Linked DNA regions of Homo sapiens: region 2 is linked to region 1. The links come from fine-mapping of genetic effects on plasma protein levels. A gene starts in region 1. The other region holds a variant in brackets. All regions are shown on one strand. Distances are from middle to middle.

Evidence for each region. A credible set is the group of variants that fine-mapping cannot tell apart. PIP is the chance, under the fine-mapping model, that this variant and not a neighbour inherited with it causes the effect. Protein levels are from antibody-based Olink assays in UK Biobank. Linkage for the fine-mapping came from a reference panel and not from the study's own genotypes, which makes the PIPs less certain.
Region 2: its variant is the best candidate, but not a certain one, in a credible set for the plasma level of the STAT2 protein (UK Biobank, PIP 0.61). The variant lies in the coding sequence of STAT2. If it changes the protein, the assay may bind it differently, which can mimic a change of level.

What each region holds. Positions count from the first base shown.
Region 1 is chr12:56,358,650-56,361,496 of GRCh38, reverse strand. It overlaps STAT2 (signal transducer and activator of transcription 2), which reads left to right and starts at 1,390. Exons shown (of 24, transcript NM_005419.4): 1 at 1,390-1,439. It overlaps APOF (apolipoprotein F), which reads left to right. Exons shown (of 2, transcript NM_001638.4): 2 at 1-929. The coding sequence ends at 272. RefSeq lists enhancers at 908-997, 1,068-1,247, 2,323-2,492, 2,324-2,523.
Region 2 is chr12:56,342,459-56,345,319 of GRCh38, reverse strand. STAT2 (signal transducer and activator of transcription 2) reads left to right here. Exons shown (of 24, transcript NM_005419.4): 23 at 1,185-1,495; 24 at 1,789-2,861. The coding sequence ends at 1,931. Among named protein-coding and RNA genes, the nearest start is that of IL23A, 5.0 kb to the right of the region's middle. The variant G/T (reference allele first, on the strand shown) is at 1,853.

The DNA of each region.
Region 1 (2,847 bases):
TGGGTCTAGCGATCAGTGCTGCACTTAAACCTGCATTAAGGTCTGGGGTTCAGCAGTTGATCCAGTATTACCAAGATCAGAAAGACGCAAACATCTCTCAGCCGGAGACCACCAAGGAGGGTTTGAGGGCCATCTCAGATGTGAGTGACTTGGAAGAAACAACTACTCTGGCTTCTTTCATATCAGAAGTAGTAAGTTCAGCTCCCTACTGGGGGTGGGCCATAATCAAGAGCTATGACTTAGATCCTGGGGCTGGGAGTCTTGAGATATAAAAGAATGTGGTAACCACAGAATTAATAACTGTACTACCCTGACAAGCTATATACATGTCTTCAAAATTTTAATCTGATTTATCCAGGAGGAAGGCTGTACAGTAAAACGTAAGAACGTAAATGTTTGGGTGTTGAAGTCACAGGGTTTGGTTTCGAATCTAGGCTCCACTTGTTAGAGCCTCGGTGATCACTGAATAGTAACTTCTTTCTTGAACTAAGATCAGTTTTGAAGTTTCTAAAGGAGATAGAATGATTTTAACCTCAATGAGTTGCCCTGTAAATTTAAAATGATACAATGAATCTAAAATGCTTATCACAGTACTTTCAATAAATAGCTATTAGCCAGGTGCGGTGGCTCACGCCTGTAATCCCAGCACTGTGAGAGGCTGAGGCGGGATGATCACCTGAGGTCAGGAGTTCAAGATCAGCCTGGGCAACATGGCGAAACCCCGTCTCTACAATAAATACAAAAAATTATCCTGGCGGAGTTATGCACGCTTGTAGTCCCAACTACCTGGGAGGCTGAGGCGGGAGAATCACCTGAGCCTGGGAGGTCGAGGCTGCAGCGAGCCGAGATCGCGCCGCTGCATTCCAGCCTGGGTGACAGAGCGAGACCATGTCTCAAAAAATAAAAATAAAAAAAAATTGTTTTCATTACCTCAGCCCTCCTCTTCCTATCCCAAGGCGTCGAAATTCCGGTCCCACCCCTTCCCATGGAGCCCTTGGCGTCTCCAGGCTCCTCAAGCTAGTTTCGGTTCCGGGGCTCACGCGCGGGTTCTCGAAAATCAGCTGTTTCAGTCTTGGGCTAGTCCACTAATTGGACTCCTCCCCTCGTAGAAAGTGCCTACTTGAACTTCTCCACCAATCGCTGAAGCTGCAGGTGTGGTTTCGGCTCAGCTTGTCCCGCCCTGCGGAGGGGCGGAGTTGCGGCGGCGCCAGTGAGCTCGCAGTCTGGGAAGGGCTTGACTGAATGGCAGCCAGTGTCGGGGTGGCGGCTGGGAATGGGGGCCGCTCCGGACTTCCGCTGCCAACTACAAGGGGGCGGGTCCGAGGGGGGTTAGCCGAAGTTGTAGGCGGGGCGCGAGGTTCTAGTACCCGAGCTCATACTAGGGACGGGAAGTCGCGACCAGAGCCATTGGAGGGCGCGGGGACTGCAACCCTAATCAGGTACGGGCCCTGAGAGGGTGTGCTGGGGTAGGGGTGGGGGTGAGAGTGAGAGTTCCTCCGAGGGAAGGGCGACTGGCCCCAGGGGTTACCCCCTGGAGAGGGTAGCTTCGGTCCCCAGATTGAAATAGGAGCTGTCGCCTGCTCGGTCCTCGATCTTCTTCTGTCCAGCCTATCTCCCTAACCCTAATGCCCCTCTCCCAAAACTGCCCTGCAGCTTCCGAGACCCGGAATCTGGCATTGTTATGTTGGTTCGGTATCTGACGTTTTTCCCTCTGCTCTGCATTATTTTTTATCTTCACCAAAAAACGATGTTCAAAGATAGATAAATCTAAAAACAAAGATAGATAAATCTATTATCCTTGTTTTGTTAAAAAGTATAAGCTACTGAAAGATGAAACGATTGCCTAAGGTCACACACAAAATTCAGTTCATTTCAGAAAAGCTTCTTGAGTGCAAAATATGTGCCTAAGAATGAGAGATAATGAGAAAAAATTGTTTCAGCCCTTAACCTCAGTGTTTGCAATCCATTTGGGGAGACCAGGTTTTTTGTTTTGTTTTCATATTTGAATCTTTGCTGACTTGCTCCTTTAATATCAGACACTTAAATCCTCAAGAATTGGGACCTCATCATTAATTTTTTTTTGGAGATGGAATCTCACTATGTTGCTCAAGCTTGGTCTCAAACTCCTGGGCTCAAGCCATCCTCTCGTCTTGTGGGCCTCACAAAGTGCTGGGATTACAGGCATGAGCCATCATGCCTGGCCACCTGATCATTTTTTTAACTTTTTTTTGGTATCATAAAAGCAATACAGATACATAGTTTTAAAAATCAAGCACTACTAAAAGAGTTAAAATGAAAATAGCCCCTGCCCAATCCCTCCCTTCCCTTGTTCCTGCTGGAGGTAGAAAGGCAGCTGATGTTATTCATGTTAGTAGAAGACTCTCCCACCCCAAGCATTTCTCTTTATTTTGTAATAAAATCATGTGACCTTTTTAGACCACAAATATGCATGAATTCTGTTCTGTTAGGCTCAGGCTGCAACAAGCATAAGTTTCAGTTTCCTAAATAGACACCAGCTGGCAGTGAGCAGGGAACAGTGGGGAGAAAGATGCATGGGACAGCCTGCTTGGTGACAGGCAAAAACCAATTTGTTGTTCTTTTGAGACAGAGTCTTGCTTTGTCACCCAGGCTGGAGTGTAGTGATGTGATCTCTGCTTACTGCAACCCCTGCCTCCTGGGTACAAGCCATTCTCCTGCCTCAGCCTCTTGAGTAGCTGGGATTACAGGCAACAATTTTAAGTGAAGTTTCAGGATCTCACAAAGTTGATAACCTATAATCATATTCAAGATTCACAGGTCATAAACGTGTCATATTCTTGGGATTGAGCCACCCATTGCACAGCATTT
Region 2 (2,861 bases), 16 kb after region 1:
TGGGGTATCACTGTGTTGCCCAGGCTGGTCTTGAACTCCTGGCCTCAAGCAGTCTCCTGCCTTGGCCTCCCAAATTGCCGGGATTGTAGGAATGAGCCATGGCACTTGGCTGGGGATAGAATTTTTTTTTTTTTTTTTTTTTTTTTTGAGACAGTCTCACTCTCATTGCCCGGGCTGGAGTGCAGTGGTGCAATTTCAGCTCACTGCAACCTCTGCCTCCCAGGCTCAAGCAATTCTCCTGCCTCAGCCTACTGAGTAGCTGGGATTACAGGCGAGCGCCACCCATGCCTGGTTAATTTTTGTTTTTTTTTTGAGACAGAGTCTCGCCCTGTTGCCCAGGCTGGAGTGCAGTGGCACGATCTCAGCTCACTGCAACCTCTGCCTCCCAGGCTCAAGCAATTCTCCTGCCTCAGCCTCCTGAGTAGCTGGGACTACAAGCGCGCACAACCACCACACCTGGCTAATTTTTGTATTTTTAGTAGAGACAGGGTTTTACCATATTGGCCAGGCTGGTCTCAAACTCCTGACCTCATGATCCGCCCACCTTGGCCTCCCAAAGTGCTGGGATTACAGGCGTGAGCCTCTGCACCCGGCCTAACTTTTGTATTTTTAGTAGAAACAGGGTTTCACCATGTTGGCCAGGCTGGTCATGAGCTCCTGGCCTCAAGTGATCTGCCCGCCTCAGCCTCCCAAAGTGCTTGGATTACAGGTGTGAGCCACCATGCCTGGCCTGAGAGTTTATTATGCGCCAGGCACTAGGCTAAATGGTTTGCATTTATTTTCTCATTTTATTGAATCTACAAAATAGTCCTGTGAAGTAAACACTGTTACTGTTTTCAGCTAAGGAACTGGATTTAGAGTAGTCAAGTTTTGTACCTAAGGTACGTGGCTAATGATACAGGTCTGTTAGATTCCGTAGCCCTGATTTTAACCACCCTACTGCCTCTCAAGAATTACTAGGTATTGTTCTCATTTATAGATGATAAATCTGAGGCTCAGAAAAGTTAGGCCACTTGCCTAAGGTCCCCCAGCCAGGATTCAAACTCCAGGAGGCCTGATTCCAAACCCATGCTCTTTAGCCCTCCGCCCTACTGCCTTCTTAGACTAGCTTCTGCTTATTCTACCATTCCTGATTTCATTTGAACCACTGAGCCCTGCCCCTTTGTCTGTCTTTGGGTATCCAGACAGGTGGATGAACTGCAACAACCGCTGGAGCTTAAGCCAGAGCCAGAGCTGGAGTCATTAGAGCTGGAACTAGGGCTGGTGCCAGAGCCAGAGCTCAGCCTGGACTTAGAGCCACTGCTGAAGGCAGGGCTGGATCTGGGGCCAGAGCTAGAGTCTGTGCTGGAGTCCACTCTGGAGCCTGTGATAGAGCCCACACTATGCATGGTATCACAAACAGTGCCAGAGCCAGACCAAGGACCTGTATCACAGCCAGTGCCAGAGCCAGATTTGCCCTGTGATCTGAGACATTTGAACACTGAGCCAATGGAAAGTAAGTGATGAGATGGAGCTATGGAAGATGGCACACATTCCCTTTCCTACCTCTTCTCCCTCTCCCATTACAGAAAAAGCTGAACTCCAAGCTCCTCATTGGAGAGAGGTCCATTCTGTGATTCCTTTTTTTAGGAATTACACATGCCTTCCCCCACCTCCCTGCTCTTTCATCCCACAAGTTCCCACTCAGGCTCTTCCCAGGCCTTTCCTGCCATCCTCCCTCCCTTTCCCTGCTGGGTTGGGAACTCCTAACTAAGATCGGGGCCTCACTTTTCTCTCTGGATTACCTAGTCTTCAGAAACTGTGTAAAGATTGAAGAAATCATGCCGAATGGTGACCCACTGTTGGCTGGCCA[G/T]AACACCGTGGATGAGGTTTACGTCTCCCGCCCCAGCCACTTCTACACTGATGGACCCTTGATGCCTTCTGACTTCTAGGAACCACATTTCCTCTGTTCTTTTCATATCTCTTGCCCTTCCTACTCCTCATAGCATGATATTGTTCTCCAAGGATGGGAATCAGGCATGTGTCCCTTCCAAGCTGTGTTAACTGTTCAAACTCAGGCCTGTGTGACTCCATTGGGGTGAGAGGTGAAAGCATAACATGGGTACAGAGGGGACAACAATGAATCAGAACAGATGCTGAGCCATAGGTCTAAATAGGATCCTGGAGGCTGCCTGCTGTGCTGGGAGGTATAGGGGTCCTGGGGGCAGGCCAGGGCAGTTGACAGGTACTTGGAGGGCTCAGGGCAGTGGCTTCTTTCCAGTATGGAAGGATTTCAACATTTTAATAGTTGGTTAGGCTAAACTGGTGCATACTGGCATTGGCCCTTGGTGGGGAGCACAGACACAGGATAGGACTCCATTTCTTTCTTCCATTCCTTCATGTCTAGGATAACTTGCTTTCTTCTTTCCTTTACTCCTGGCTCAAGCCCTGAATTTCTTCTTTTCCTGCAGGGGTTGAGAGCTTTCTGCCTTAGCCTACCATGTGAAACTCTACCCTGAAGAAAGGGATGGATAGGAAGTAGACCTCTTTTTCTTACCAGTCTCCTCCCCTACTCTGCCCCTAAGCTGGCTGTACCTGTTCCTCCCCCATAAAATGATCCTGCCAATCTAATGTGAGTGTGAAGCTTTGCACACTAGTTTATGCTACCTAGTCTCCACTTTCTCAATGCTTAGGAGACAGATCACTCCTGGAGGCTGGGGATGGTAGGATTGCTGGGGATTTTTTTTTTTTTAAACAGGGTCTCACTCTGTTGCCCAGGCTAGAGTGCAATGGTGCAATCACAGCTCACTGCAGCCTCAACCTCCTGGGTTCAAGCAATCCTCCTACCTCAGCCTCCTGGGTAGCTAGCACCATGGCATGCG